Homo sapiens: one gene and its partner. The protein of the gene in region 1 interacts with the protein of each later gene in a pairwise test. Each region holds a gene or a part of one and is shown in the gene's direction. Other genes may lie near its edges.

Region 1 (7,026 bases):
TCGTGGGCCTTGCATTAGGAAGGTTAAACCAAAGTAAAATAAAACATTTCTAGGGCTCTGTTTGTCTTCTCAAAATGGTTAGTGCTGTGATTGACTCCAGAATCAGGCTTCATCCTGGAGCATCCAAAACTCAGGACCACCGTTTCCCGGGGACTCACGCTCAACCCCCCACACTGGGCCTGTGTACACCCCCATCCACAGCCTCAGGAAGAAGGACCTTAAAGGTGGTCACAGAAGAATTTACAAGCTGCTCTTAGGACTGGCTTTGTCTCAGTTGCACATGAGCCAGAGCCACTTCTCCCAATCAAAGGTGATTTCTCCTTTGCTCCCACTTCTCCAGCCACAAGCCAACTGTCTATGAGACTGTCAGACATCAGCCCCCTCTCCCTTACCCTGTGGGACTCTCCCATGGAAAGTGCCTCCATCGACCCCAGGGTCTCACCCCAACTCCCCAGCTAATTTCCTGCTTTAGGGCTTGGGCAGGACACTTCTATCTAGGGCCCTAGACACCCCCTGTCCTCTGAGAACCCCGCCAGGCCTAGCCAGAGACCTACCACTTGCCCTCAAAACCATTTCCTCCTCATCCCGAGGTACACTTTTAGGCTTCCAAGGAAAAACCAGAACATGGTAGATGGATCTTCGCAACTGCTCCAAGGTCTTCCCCTCCAAAACCACAAAGCAGGCAGGTGAGTATCCTGGAATGAGTCCCCAGTGGCCTCCTGGGGGCTTGGAGAGGGGCCTCCAATTTCCTGGGCATTATATGTGTCAGGGGGTGGTAATCCCAGCCAGAAGCCTGGCATTCAGCCCCCAAGTCCTGACATCTTGTTCTAATCTACCCTGCCCGCTCATTACTGGGGCAATACAAGTCTCCATCCTTTCCCATCTGGTCAACACCCCCTCTCCGTCTTGGCCAGAGTAGATTCTCAGGAACCCAAATCCGACAACGAAGCTCCCCTGCTAAAATCTGGAGGTCAAAAGCCTGGGAGATAAGGGTTCCCCCTTCACCTGCAGTGGCCTTGGCCATCAGCCCAGCCCTGTCTGCGGATCCAGCCTTATCTAGGCCCCACCCTCCCTCACCCCACTCTCCAGCCGGCCAACCATCTCGTTCTTTGTTACCAGAACACATGCACTGGCAGGCTCTCCACCTTTGCACTTACCATTCCCTCCTCCTAGAAGAGCCTTCCTCCCTTATCCTTCCAGCAAATTCCTGCTCAACTTTCAAGGCCCAGCTCAAAGGTCTGCTCCTGCATGAAGCCCTGTCTCACCGCCGGTTCAGTCCAAGCAGGCTGCCATCATAGACCTACCATAAACATTTATTTCTCATGGTTCTGGAGGCTGGATGCCCAAGGCCAAAGCCAAGCTGCCAGCACCCTCAGGTTCTGGTGAGGGGCCTCTTCCCTGCTTGCAGACGGCCACCTCCTTTCTGTGCATGCCCATGACATTGTTCTTCTGATAAGGCCACCAATCCTATCAAATTAGGACCCTACCCATATGACATCATCTCACTTTAATGACTTCCTAAAAGCCTTATCTCCAAATACAGTCACATGGGGGTTAGGCCTTCAACATAGGAATTTGGGGCAGGGACACAGTTCAGTCCATAACACCTCCGCAGACAAATCTGATCTCTGCCTCCTCCACAGCGCCACCTTGTTCAGGGCAGGACTTCTCTTCATCACAGCACATCCACCCTTGATTCCCATTTGTGCCTCGTGTGCATTTGATGAATGAATGAAGTCCCATCCCCTACTCCTTCTGTCTCCTCCTTCCTCCCAGCAGCCTCTGTGTGACAACTTATCCGTCTCTCCCACTGTCCCAGTTCCCAGAGGCAGGAGCCACCCTCTCATGCATCCCTGGGCTCTCGGCACCCTGCACAGGGCAGGCCCGGGTGGGTGAATTCTGGTTCAATTGTAGGAGGACCTGTGGCCCCTGGGGTTGGCGAACCCCGGGCCGGGAGTCCCACTCCTTGCCATTGTCGCCCCCACACATTCATCAGCCCCCTATTGGACAAAGTCTTATTCCCATTACTGAGGTTTCTTCCAGTCCTACGGGGCAGAGTTCCCGATCTCTGGGCAGGCAACAGCAGCTGTGCAAAAAAGGCCAGACATCGCCTTCCTCCCACAACTCCACAGGCCGGGAACCGTGCATGTACAGTGGCGTTTCTTTGTTCCTAGGTAGGAAAAGCCATTAGTTTTAGCACCGCAGAAAAAAACGCAAATCGCTCTTGGTGCTTTTTGATTTCCGTCCAGGTCTCCCTCCACAGGTGAATGCTATATGAATGGGTCCTGCATTTGGCTCAGCAAGCAGCTCTCCGGCTCACATCGGGATATTTATTTAACGTATCTGGTTTTTACTCCCTCCCGTCCAAAAGCGTCAAGCTAAAAATATCTTGTTTATGAGCTCTGGACCGAAAACGAAGCAGTTGGGCTATTAATCACTGGGACTATGTTGAATAGGAACTTGATTAAAGCGCAGTGTGCGTTGCCCAGATGAAACTGCTTCTTTACTGCGATCGTCGTGGAAGCTCGGGGCTCTCCAGCGGTGTTTTTAGCTGTGCCCCCTCCGGGGCTCCTGGGCGGGTCGTGGCGCCTTGCCAGGCCTAAGGCCACTGTCGGTGAAGGGGGTCTTCCCTCACCTGTAGGCAAGCGCGCCTCTAGCCGGGACGCAGGCGGCGTCAGGCCTCAGCGCCAGTGGCGAGGGGCGGCGCGGGCAAGGACAGGAGACACTTGAGGGCTCCCAAGACTCCATCTGGGCCCAGCTGACGGTCCGTAGCCGCCACCCCGGCCCCGGTAAAGAATGCGAGGGACGCACGTGGCTGGGGGTCTCGGTGGCAAGCTCCTTCCCCCGCCGCGGTGAGAGCATTAGCTGCCGCACTCAAGGGGCCCCAGGGCCTGGCCGCCTCGGTCCCTAGGATCCCGGGGACTACAGCGCCCGGCGAACCACTGGGCAGAGTTCTCCCTGTGCGTGCTCGGACCTGGCAGCCCGGCGGCCTGGACACCCTCGCTCCCGCCGTTGGCGCCCACCTGAATGGGGAGGCGGGGGAGGAAGCGGTGGCTTCGGGCCTCGAGGGCTGCGGCCCCCGCCTCGGAATCCCGGCCCCAGAGTTAAGTTTGTCTCCTCCCTCGGTGCGCCCCTCCCCGTGCTCGCCCCGGCGTCCAGCTCCGCTAGTCTGGGGGGCCCCGCGGTCCCGCAGGAAAAAAAATCGGCGACTCCACGCCGGGTAACAGCGCCGGCCCCGCGCGCCTAGCAAGCCGCGCGCTCCGACCTGGAGAAGTAATTATAAAGAAAGTTTTCCAGCCCGGGCGGATCGACCGGCCAGGTCCTCCAGGCTCCCGGGCCGAGGCCGCCTCCGCTCCCCGCGGGGTCCTAGCGCCCTGCGCGGCGCCGCCCATGGGACCCCGGCGTCCTCCGAGAGGTACCTCTGCGCGGAATCACAGGGGTAGCCTGGAGATCAGAGCTAGGAGACGCAGAGCCACCGCGCTCAGGACCTCTCCGCGCGTCCCAAACGGCCCCCCACCGGCCCCAGCCCCGCTGCTCTGCGCTGCAGCCTCCCCGGGACGCGGGTCCGGGACAGGCCTGGTTCTGGCTTTGAAAGAGAATCCGCGCCCCAGCAGCTCAAGACCAAGACTCGCCCTCCGCCCCCCACCCCTACCCCGTGCAGCCTCGGGATACTCCTGGGCTCCCGGCCGTGGCTGGATACGGGCGCCTAGGGCAGGCAGGAGGAGGGGGCCCCCGCTACCGACCACGTGGGCGCGGGGGCGACGGCCGGGCCGGGGGCGGAGCTTGGAGCGAGCGCCGCGGCTCTGCTGGGCGCGCTGGAGGCGGTGGGCGTTGCGCCGCGGCCTGCCTGGGGAGCGCGGCGCTGTGCCGCGCTGGTTCGCCGCCCCATGCCGGCCGCGCGCTAGGACCCAGCAGGCGCCGCGCCGCCGCAGCCCGGGGACAGAGGCCGCCTCGGACTCTAGGGGGCGACGCGGCCTGCCGGGTATAAAAGCTGGGCCGGCGCGGGCCGGGCCATTCGCGACCCGGAGGTGCGCGGGCGCGGGCGAGCAGGGTCTCCGGGTGGGCGGCGGCGACGCCCCGCGCAGGCTGGAGGCCGCCGAGGCTCGCCATGCCGGGAGAACTCTAACTCCCCCATGGAGTCGGCCGACTTCTACGAGGCGGAGCCGCGGCCCCCGATGAGCAGCCACCTGCAGAGCCCCCCGCACGCGCCCAGCAGCGCCGCCTTCGGCTTTCCCCGGGGCGCGGGCCCCGCGCAGCCTCCCGCCCCACCTGCCGCCCCGGAGCCGCTGGGCGGCATCTGCGAGCACGAGACGTCCATCGACATCAGCGCCTACATCGACCCGGCCGCCTTCAACGACGAGTTCCTGGCCGACCTGTTCCAGCACAGCCGGCAGCAGGAGAAGGCCAAGGCGGCCGTGGGCCCCACGGGCGGCGGCGGCGGCGGCGACTTTGACTACCCGGGCGCGCCCGCGGGCCCCGGCGGCGCCGTCATGCCCGGGGGAGCGCACGGGCCCCCGCCCGGCTACGGCTGCGCGGCCGCCGGCTACCTGGACGGCAGGCTGGAGCCCCTGTACGAGCGCGTCGGGGCGCCGGCGCTGCGGCCGCTGGTGATCAAGCAGGAGCCCCGCGAGGAGGATGAAGCCAAGCAGCTGGCGCTGGCCGGCCTCTTCCCTTACCAGCCGCCGCCGCCGCCGCCGCCCTCGCACCCGCACCCGCACCCGCCGCCCGCGCACCTGGCCGCCCCGCACCTGCAGTTCCAGATCGCGCACTGCGGCCAGACCACCATGCACCTGCAGCCCGGTCACCCCACGCCGCCGCCCACGCCCGTGCCCAGCCCGCACCCCGCGCCCGCGCTCGGTGCCGCCGGCCTGCCGGGCCCTGGCAGCGCGCTCAAGGGGCTGGGCGCCGCGCACCCCGACCTCCGCGCGAGTGGCGGCAGCGGCGCGGGCAAGGCCAAGAAGTCGGTGGACAAGAACAGCAACGAGTACCGGGTGCGGCGCGAGCGCAACAACATCGCGGTGCGCAAGAGCCGCGACAAGGCCAAGCAGCGCAACGTGGAGACGCAGCAGAAGGTGCTGGAGCTGACCAGTGACAATGACCGCCTGCGCAAGCGGGTGGAACAGCTGAGCCGCGAACTGGACACGCTGCGGGGCATCTTCCGCCAGCTGCCAGAGAGCTCCTTGGTCAAGGCCATGGGCAACTGCGCGTGAGGCGCGCGGCTGTGGGACCGCCCTGGGCCAGCCTCCGGCGGGGACCCAGGGAGTGGTTTGGGGTCGCCGGATCTCGAGGCTTGCCCGAGCCGTGCGAGCCAGGACTAGGAGATTCCGGTGCCTCCTGAAAGCCTGGCCTGCTCCGCGTGTCCCCTCCCTTCCTCTGCGCCGGACTTGGTGCGTCTAAGATGAGGGGGCCAGGCGGTGGCTTCTCCCTGCGAGGAGGGGAGAATTCTTGGGGCTGAGCTGGGAGCCCGGCAACTCTAGTATTTAGGATAACCTTGTGCCTTGGAAATGCAAACTCACCGCTCCAATGCCTACTGAGTAGGGGGAGCAAATCGTGCCTTGTCATTTTATTTGGAGGTTTCCTGCCTCCTTCCCGAGGCTACAGCAGACCCCCATGAGAGAAGGAGGGGAGCAGGCCCGTGGCAGGAGGAGGGCTCAGGGAGCTGAGATCCCGACAAGCCCGCCAGCCCCAGCCGCTCCTCCACGCCTGTCCTTAGAAAGGGGTGGAAACATAGGGACTTGGGGCTTGGAACCTAAGGTTGTTCCCCTAGTTCTACATGAAGGTGGAGGGTCTCTAGTTCCACGCCTCTCCCACCTCCCTCCGCACACACCCCACCCCAGCCTGCTATAGGCTGGGCTTCCCCTTGGGGCGGAACTCACTGCGATGGGGGTCACCAGGTGACCAGTGGGAGCCCCCACCCCGAGTCACACCAGAAAGCTAGGTCGTGGGTCAGCTCTGAGGATGTATACCCCTGGTGGGAGAGGGAGACCTAGAGATCTGGCTGTGGGGCGGGCATGGGGGGTGAAGGGCCACTGGGACCCTCAGCCTTGTTTGTACTGTATGCCTTCAGCATTGCCTAGGAACACGAAGCACGATCAGTCCATCCCAGAGGGACCGGAGTTATGACAAGCTTTCCAAATATTTTGCTTTATCAGCCGATATCAACACTTGTATCTGGCCTCTGTGCCCCAGCAGTGCCTTGTGCAATGTGAATGTGCGCGTCTCTGCTAAACCACCATTTTATTTGGTTTTTGTTTTGTTTTGGTTTTGCTCGGATACTTGCCAAAATGAGACTCTCCGTCGGCAGCTGGGGGAAGGGTCTGAGACTCCCTTTCCTTTTGGTTTTGGGATTACTTTTGATCCTGGGGGACCAATGAGGTGAGGGGGGTTCTCCTTTGCCCTCAGCTTTCCCCAGCCCCTCCGGCCTGGGCTGCCCACAAGGCTTGTCCCCCAGAGGCCCTGGCTCCTGGTCGGGAAGGGAGGTGGCCTCCCGCCAACGCATCACTGGGGCTGGGAGCAGGGAAGGACGGCTTGGTTCTCTTCTTTTGGGGAGAACGTAGAGTCTCACTCTAGATGTTTTATGTATTATATCTATAATATAAACATATCAAAGTCAATGTCGGTGTCTTTTTAAAACCAGAAAGAAGCTACTTCCAAGGTTGTCTGTGGGCCAGGTCACATTTGTAAATAATACAGCATTTTCCCTGGCGGCAATCCTGACTTTCATGAGCTCTCCATCCATCCTGAGCCCCTCTTACCCTAAGGGGGTGACTTACTTCCCCCAGGCAAGACAAATAAATAGCAGAGGACAAGGCTCCAAATGGAGTATGTCCAGAGCCTGAAGGCAGTCTCTTGGGGTCAGGGGAGGGGGCTGAAGGGGTTACTGGGCTGAGGCCTTGGCGAGGCTTCTTATCTGCCCCGGGGAGGAGGAGAGGGAGTCCTCTGCCTGAGGGGTAGGCCTGGCTAAGCAGCCCTAGGCTCAAGGAGCCCTTTGTGCAGACTTCCTTGCAAATCACCTACAGCTGCAGC
Region 2 (7,723 bases), on another chromosome or scaffold:
CAACATGCAGCTCCCCACCCACTCCCCTTTCTCTTTGCTCCCTCTCAAGGAACTCCTCCCACCACCAGCCTTCCAAGCCCTTAGGTTTTCCTCGGTCTTCTGTAAAGTGGCAGAAGACTCACCAGGAGAAGAGTGTGAGCAGGTGGTCTCCATGCTGCGGTACAGAGTTGCCATAGCAACAGCTTTCCGCCGGTGGTTGCACAGCTTGGTCATGTCCTCCTCTGATGCTGGCCCCACCCCAGCCCCACCCGGGGTCACCGGGGCCAAAGGGTCAAAGTTGAAAACCTGTAAGGTGGAAAGCAAGGACAGGGACCCTGAGGGGCTGGAACCTGTGAGAAGGGCTACCTCAGTCAGTGATTTGCATTAAGACTTTTAGCTTATCTCTGTACTCTCAGGCGCCCCTCACCACTCTGACCTTGGGGACATTAAGTGGACACTCCAGACCGCACTTGCAGGTCCCATCGCTGAGGAGGTAGCTCCGGGTTTGCTCCAAGGAAGACAGCTCTGTGCCACTTGGACTGCGAGAGGACAGGGTCAGAGGACATGGGGTTAGCTGGCAGCGAATCAGGCAATACTCCTAAAGCACAGTGCTTAAGTTACAGATCCTCCTAGAAGAACAGAGGATAAGGAATGTGGGAAGACACAGAAAAAGGGAGAATGGATTCAAAGGCCCAGAGCTACAGAAAGCAAAAAGGCTGAGGAAGGAAGGGGAAGAGAGGAGAGCAATCGGGTACCAGAGAGCTGAGCTGAGAGAAGAAACGGAAGAAAGAAAACCTGGGCAACTGGAGTGGCAGAGCTTGGGGACCTGTGAAGATCCGTACCTGATGTAGAGCACAGCACCCTCTCGCACACAGCGCTGCCAGCCGATGGGGACAGATGTGGCCACAGGGCCCCCAGCTCTGTCTGCTCCACTGCTCTCATTGCCCCCATTCATTGTGTGTAATCAGCTCCCGCGTGCCTGATAACACAGACATCCATGTAGGCACTAGGAGGATTAAACTGAGCGAAGTACCTGAGAGAGGACTCCAGGAAGGCAAAGGTTGTGGGGAGACCCAAGAAAACTCAGGGGAAGCCCCAGAGGAGCAAGGGGAACCCCTCAGCTGGGAGGGAGACTGAGGAGTCCTCTGCCGTATCACCACAGCTACCTGAACATCTCTGCAAACATTGTGGGGTCCAGTCTAAAGCCGGGGCCACCAGCTTAGCCCACACCTGCAACGCAAGTAGAGAGATGGGACTGTCAGGAGTCTGCCCAACTCTAAAGAGCAGCACAGCCCAGCACCCTCTCAAAAGAAAGATCCTTAACAATGTGAGGCAAGCACCTATAAAGATCTCGGGGATCTGCTGGCTTAGTCTACAACCATCCTTTCCAAGCCCAGTCCCTAGGGACCAGAGGGTCAGAACCTCAGCTCCCTGGGACCAAGAAAGTCTAGCCCAATTCTTAGGCATATGAAGGGCAAGGCCTCCCTCCATTCGGAGTAGAAGACTTCAACCAGGAGTATGGGCACATTCCCATAATGCTAGGCCACTAGGAAGTTTCCCAGAGTGTCTGGCTCCTGTTGTTCTCTACCCAGGAAGATGATATAAAAAGTACAGATTGCCCCACAGGTCACCAGGCAATTGCCCAACTGCCCGCTGGGGTGGTACCAGCAGAACTCCCCCCATGCCTGCTCCATCAGACAATCGCTGATATAGTTCATTCGGGTCTTAAGAGGTGAGGATCACAGCTCAGTCTTCTCCCAGGATCCTGGGAAGCTCCTGATTTTCCCTCAAGCCTACGGCAAAGGGATTCAGAACCTCCTATTCCACTGGCTTCCGATTATCTCCAAGAGAGCCTGTCCTCCGATAGAAGGGGAAGCCCCTCCAACCTGCAGGTATCCTCCCCAGCCTCACCATTGCTCCCACCCCACACTGGCGGCTTCCAAACTTTCCCTCTCACAACAAGGCGCCCTGTCACCCAGACTGCTTCCCTCAGCTTGAGGAGGAGGGGAAGGCGCACGAAGTAGGAAGGAACTTGGGGAGAGGGCGGGCGGAGGGTGGGCGAAGCACTGAGGGGAGGGCGGTGAGGAAGGCAGAAGTCTGGCAGTGAGAGGGAGAAGCGGCGGGGGCAGGTGAGGGCGGGGGAGTGGGGATGGGGCCGGGGAAAGGGGCCGAGAGGACGCGGAGGGGGCAGAGGGTAGGGACGGGAGGGGGAGGGGCAGGGTGGGGGGGGCCGGGCCCCGCACTCACCGCGGCCCATGGTTCGGCCGGCCCCGCCCTGCGCAGTCGCGGCCCAGAGGGTGAGTGGGAGGGGGTGGGAGGAGGGTCGGTGGAGCCCGAGCCTCCGGTACGGCCCCGGCCGGTCCTAGCAGGAAGCGCCGCTGCCGCCGCCGCGGATCACCGAGCGGCCTCCCGCGCATGCGCCATGGGGGCCAGGGGCAGCCCTGGGGATTCCGTTCCCAGAAGGCACTGCGCAGGCTGCTGCCGCTGCCGCCGCCGCCGTCGCTGCCGCAGCCGCCGCCGCAGGAGCCGCCGCCTCCGCCGCTGCCCGGACGGGAGAGGGGCGGGGCCGGGCCCCCGCCCAGCGGACAGCGACGAGCCAACTGGAGGGGCTGCAGTGCGCATGCGGGAGCGCGCCTACCCCTCCCCCACAACCCCCCATTAATCCCCAAGAGAACAAACACCCCACGCGGCCCCCCCGCCCTCCGCGGAAGGATCTGCGCCTCTTCCCAGGCCACTGGTGGCCAATCCCAGCCCTCCTCAGGGAGGGGCCCCTTCCAAAGCCACAGTCTGTTGCGGGAACCAGGAATGCCAGGTCCGGGAGGGGCCAGGCCCCGAAAGATGAAAGTCGCGACTTGCCCTGCCCCGCCCCAAAGGCTTCCCGGGTAGTGTGCTGGGACTTGACCCGCCTCCCCAGGTCAACATGTCACAACACGACCTCAGCCTGTCAAGTCACATGACCTCTGCCTGTCACTGACAACCTGGTCTGTCTTTAGGCCAGGGGAGACCATCTGGTCCACCCTCCACACTACCCCCATTTTCAGAGAGGAAATGGAGGTGTGGAGCAGCGGAGCAGCCTAACCAAAGACCTGTCATTGCCACACCACTCCAGTCACAACCGGCCTTGTGACAGTTTCTACTTAAACTCTGGCTGCCCCCATGAGGGTATGACAGGATATGTAACAGGCCACCACATGGCCTCTGTTTTCAAGGCACAAGAAAAATACTTTGCATTCTGGGTGGTGCGTTTTACTTTTGGTCAAGTTGCCTCCAAGTTCATGGTTCTCATTTTACCTTCACAACTTTTATCTTTAATTTACAAACAAGGACGGTAAGATCCCTTGGCAAGTGATGGGGAGTTGAGTCTAAAATCGCGGCTCCGGTCTCCCCAGTCCAGGGCAGTCCTGCGCTGAAGTGCACTCACACGTCCCGGGATGAGACTCCGCTGTAAATCTCGACCCGAACACCTAGGAGGCAGGCCTGTGCCGCGCTCCTCACACAGGGAGTCACAGGACTTGCTGTCTGGTACAGCAAGAGAGGGTCTTGGAGAAAGCCATAGGAGTACCGTGGGGGAAAATAGGTGGCCAAACAGAATCGGGTCCACTGGGCAAAATACATGACTTCTGGCAGGCTGAGGGCTTACCAACTACAAGGTAAAAGTCAAGGGCGCTGTTCTGAGAGAAGCGGAAAATGACTACCAAGGGATTCCAGTACCTCGGCCCCTTTTGGGAGATTTACGGGGCTAGAACAGGAGACCACCCCCGTTTTTTTGTTTGTTTGTTTTGTTTTTTGTTTTTGGTGAAACGTAGTCTCGCTCTGTCACCCAGGCTGGAGTGCAGTGGCGCGATCTCGGTCACTGCAACATCCGCCTCCAGGGTTCAAGCGATTCTTCTGCCTCTGCCTCCAGAGTAGCTGGGATTACAGGCGCGCATCACCACACCCGGCTAATTTTTGTATTTTTAGTAGAGACGGGGTTTCACCATGTTGGTCAGGCTGATCTCGAACTCCTGACCTCAAGTGATCCGCTCTCCTCAGCCTCCCAAAGTGCTGGGATTACAGGCGTAAGCCACTGAGCCCGGCCAGGAGACCTCTTTAAGAAGACTCGAGATGTCGACAATCCCAGTGGATGGATACCAACTTTAAAAAGAAAAGTTCAAAAGGCCTATGTGCCCATTAGCTGGGAGGGGCCAAGAAATATGGGAGTCCCTTATAGTGGGGGTAAAACGGCGGGTAAAGCTAGGTGGGCGGAACAGCAGCTTCTGGGGGAGACAAGCGGCAAAGAGGCTCACGACCGACTAGGGGCGACCAAGGCTGATAGCCGTTGGGGCCGTTGGGCGCCGGGAGCTGGCGCCCCGCCCTCTCTCCTCTCCCCCACCCTCCGCACCTCCCACCACCCTCGGTGTCCCCTGCGCGTGCGCGTGCAGACACCGGTTGCCAAACATTGCATCATCCCCGCCCCCCTTTCCTCCCCTCCCCCCCCGCTACACTCCCCTCCGCGCGCGCGCATGACTCACCCACCTCCTCCGTGAAGCCTCGTGACCCAAAGCCACTTCCGGGTCCGACACTACGTCGACCCCCTAGCGAGAGGGAGCGACGGGGGCGGTGCCGCGGGGCTCCTGAGTGGCGGATGCGAGGGACGGGGCGGGGCCAATGCCGGCGTGCCACTTTCTGATTGGTAGGTTTTGGGGTCCCGCCCCTGAGAGGAGGGCAAGGCCATGGTAAAAGATTACAGCCAGGCGCTCCCGAGGTCAGAGACTTAAGTCTAAGGCACTGAGCGTATCATGTTAAAGATGAGCGGGTGGCAGCGACAGAGCCAAAATCAGAGCTGGAACCTGAGGAGAGAGGCGAGTACTGATTCCCATCTACCTTTTACCCTCCCGTCTCCTCAAAGTTGGGGCGTCCGCTCTTTAGGATCGGCCTCACTCCTCCACAGTGAAGTTAGGGACCGTCCGAGAGAGGAATGGGGAGAGTCCCTTATTCTGGGGTGGTGCTTACAAACCCCTATTGCTTCGGACGACGGCGTCTCTCCACCCCTGCCCGGAGCCGGAACACGGGCCCTGCTCTGTGCTGCTGGGCAAAGGGACCTCGGTTGCCCTTGGGAAATTCATTCTTTCCCGTAGCCAACTTCAGGCCTCATCGTTAGGCCTGTCCGCGGGGAGGCAGGTCAGCAGGACACACCCCCGCTCTAAGACTGGGTGACCATCGCTCAGGCCGTTTCCGCCGCTTCGCCACCAGCGGGCCTTCTCCCTACCCCACCCCCAATTCTGTCTCAGTCTCAGTGCCTCTGGTGTCAGCATGGCCACCTTGGTAGCTGGGGCTACTGGACCCTGCAGCGGATAGGGGAACCTTGAGGAGACACAAGCCTTTGGGAGGGGTGCCGATGGACAGGGAGTGGTGTGTTTTCCTTTTGCCGTAGAGGTCTCTGGGCCTCCTGCACAAGAGAGCAGCCTGGATCTCTTAAGTGTAGGAGGCCATTTGGGGTCTCCCCAGGGTATTGTCCTTCCCTCGGGATTAGTCCCTGCCTCTTTAACCCGGTCCTGTCTCCCAGCTAATCTCTGTGTAACCATTGCATCAGGCCAGCCCCGTTTGGCTCTGCAGCCTTCTGACCTGAGGCTCTACTGCTGATGAAAGCCAAGTCCCACACACTGGAAGGCAAGGGAGGGTTCCCCAGGGAGGACAGCCCTGCAGAGAAATACTTCGGGCAATATTGCATCTCTAGCCCCTAGGGATCAGCAGCTGCCACTCTGCTTCTGCCCCTTCCCTATAAGAGAGACTGGGGGGAGTTTATCCATTCATTCTTAACAAATACTTAATGAGGACCTACTGTGTGCCACACAGTTTGGGGCTCAGGGTACATCCTTGAGCAAGAGGAAAAAATCATCTCAGTGGGAGGCCTACAGTAAACAAAATATAAGTGCCACGGAGAAAGCTAAAGCAGAGAAAGGAATGGAGAATGTTCAGGATGGAGGTCAGAGTGTTACATCAGGTGGTCAGGAATTACCTTAGGTAATTCCTCCACTCAAAACCCTTCAGTGACTTCCATGACATGAAATAGGAAGTCATTGGAGGGTTTGAGCAGAGGAATGACCTGTTTTAAAAGGCTCACTCAGGCTGCTGTATGGTGAATAGAGTTGCGGAGGGGTGGCAAGAGAAGAAATGGGAAGACCTTCTGCAGTCAGAAAGTTTCTGCAGTAATTTAGAGATGGTAGTGAATTGATCTAGATTGGAAACAATGGAATTAGAAGTGTTTAGATTCTTCTAAGCAAAGGTTTTAAAAACTCATTTTTAAAGAATGAGTTAAGGGCCGGGCATGGTGGCTCACACCTGTAATCCCAGCACTTTGGGAGACCAGAGGTGGGTGGATCACCTGAGGTCAGGAGTTCAAGACCAGCCTGGCCAACATGGTGAAATCCCATCTTTACTAAAAATACAAAAATTAGCCGGGCATGGCAGTGCATGCCTGTAATCCCAGCTACTCCGGAGGCTGAAGCAGGAGAATCGCTTGAACCCAGCAGGCGGAGGTTGCAGTGAGCCGATTGCGCCACTGCCTTCCAGCCTGGGCAAAAAGAGTGAGACCCGTCTCAGAAAAAAAGGAATGAGTTAAAATTTGCTAGTACTTTGGATTGCAGGGTGTGAGAGAAGAGGAATGAAGGATGATACCAAGGTTTTTAGCTTAAGCAACTAGAGTTGTCATCTGAGATGGGGATGACCTTGGAAGGGGAAAATCAGCAAGAGTTTGCCTTTGCACATAGTCTTAGGTGCCTATTAGACATTGAAAAAGAAATGGCAAGTAGGCAGTAGACAGCAGAGTCTGAAGTTCTGGAAGAGGTCCAGACTGGAAATGTACATTTGGAGGATGTCAGCCCTGTGGGAATGGAGTTAGGAAAATGCTATGATTTGTTCCCTTCCCTGTAGTTTAGTTTTTACCCTGGCAGATTTGAGGCCTGCTTTGGATTTAGAGAAAGCTGAGTTGGCCAGGACTTTACTATTATGTAACCAGGACTACAAATGTCAGCAACTAAAAATAAAGAAAGTCAGGCCCTCTTCTGCCCTTCGAAATGGCTACAGGGACCAAGTATGCATACCCCACAAGACCAGAAGTAAGGAAGGACCAGTAGGAGGCTGGAGGTAAAAGAAAAATAAGGGCCCAGCACGGTAGCTCATGCCTATAATCCCAGCACTTTGGGAAGCGATGGATCACAAGGTTAAGAGATGGAGACCATCCTGGCCAACATAGTGAAACCCTATCTCTGCTAAAAACACAAAAATTAGCTGGGCGTGGTGGCACGCGCCTGTAGTCCCAGCTACTCGGGAGGCCGAGGCAGAAGAATCACTTGAACCGAGGAGGCAGAGGTTGCAGTGAGCCGAGATCGCACCACTGCACTTCAGCCTGGCAACAGAGCAAGACTTGGTCTCAAAAAAAAAAAAAGAAAGAAAAAAAGAAAAAGAAAAGTAAGTTGCCTCTCCCCCTTCCAAAAATGGCTGACATTTCTCTTTGTTGCCCACAGTGTTCAAGAAGGAAGTGTATCTTCATACATCACCACACCTGAAAGCAGGTAAACTTAACCTACCCTTTTCCAAAAATTTTAAACGGCAGGACAGTAAATATTTTAGATGTTAAAAGTCCTATAGTCTCTAGCGTGACTCTTCATCTCTGCCACTGTAGCACCAAAGCAGCCATAAACAATATGTAAATAAACAGATGTGGCTGTATTCCAGTACAACTTTACCTACAAAAACAGGCATC

What was found. The genes of interacting proteins can lie anywhere in the genome.
Region 2: the proteins of CEBPA (region 1) and DDIT3 interact in binary tests that used the Homo sapiens proteins (3 or more experiments, as listed by UniProt).

The regions. Positions count from the first base shown.
Region 1 is NC_000019.10:33,299,522-33,306,547, reverse strand, and holds CEBPA (CCAAT/enhancer-binding protein alpha), read left to right. Parts: upstream 1-4,013; 5' UTR 4,014-4,028; coding exon of another isoform or gene 4,029-4,133; coding exon 4,134-5,210; 3' UTR 5,211-6,614; downstream 6,615-7,026. UniProt on the Homo sapiens protein: Transcription factor that coordinates proliferation arrest and the differentiation of myeloid progenitors, adipocytes, hepatocytes, and cells of the lung and the placenta.
Region 2 is NC_000012.12:57,517,515-57,525,237, reverse strand, and holds the start of DDIT3 (DNA damage-inducible transcript 3 protein), read left to right. Parts: upstream 1-4,723; 5' UTR 4,724-4,757; coding exon of another isoform or gene 4,758-4,820; intron 4,821-5,978; exon of another isoform or gene 5,979-6,075; intron 6,076-7,484; coding exon of another isoform or gene 7,485-7,526; 5' UTR 7,527-7,532; exon of another isoform or gene 7,533-7,723. Other genes in the region: MBD6 (methyl-CpG-binding domain protein 6), read right to left, coding at 123-285, 416-518, 822-934; uncharacterized LOC128125814, read left to right, coding at 4,758-4,820, 7,485-7,526. UniProt on the Homo sapiens protein: Multifunctional transcription factor in endoplasmic reticulum (ER) stress response. Plays an essential role in the response to a wide variety of cell stresses and induces cell cycle arrest and apoptosis in response to ER stress.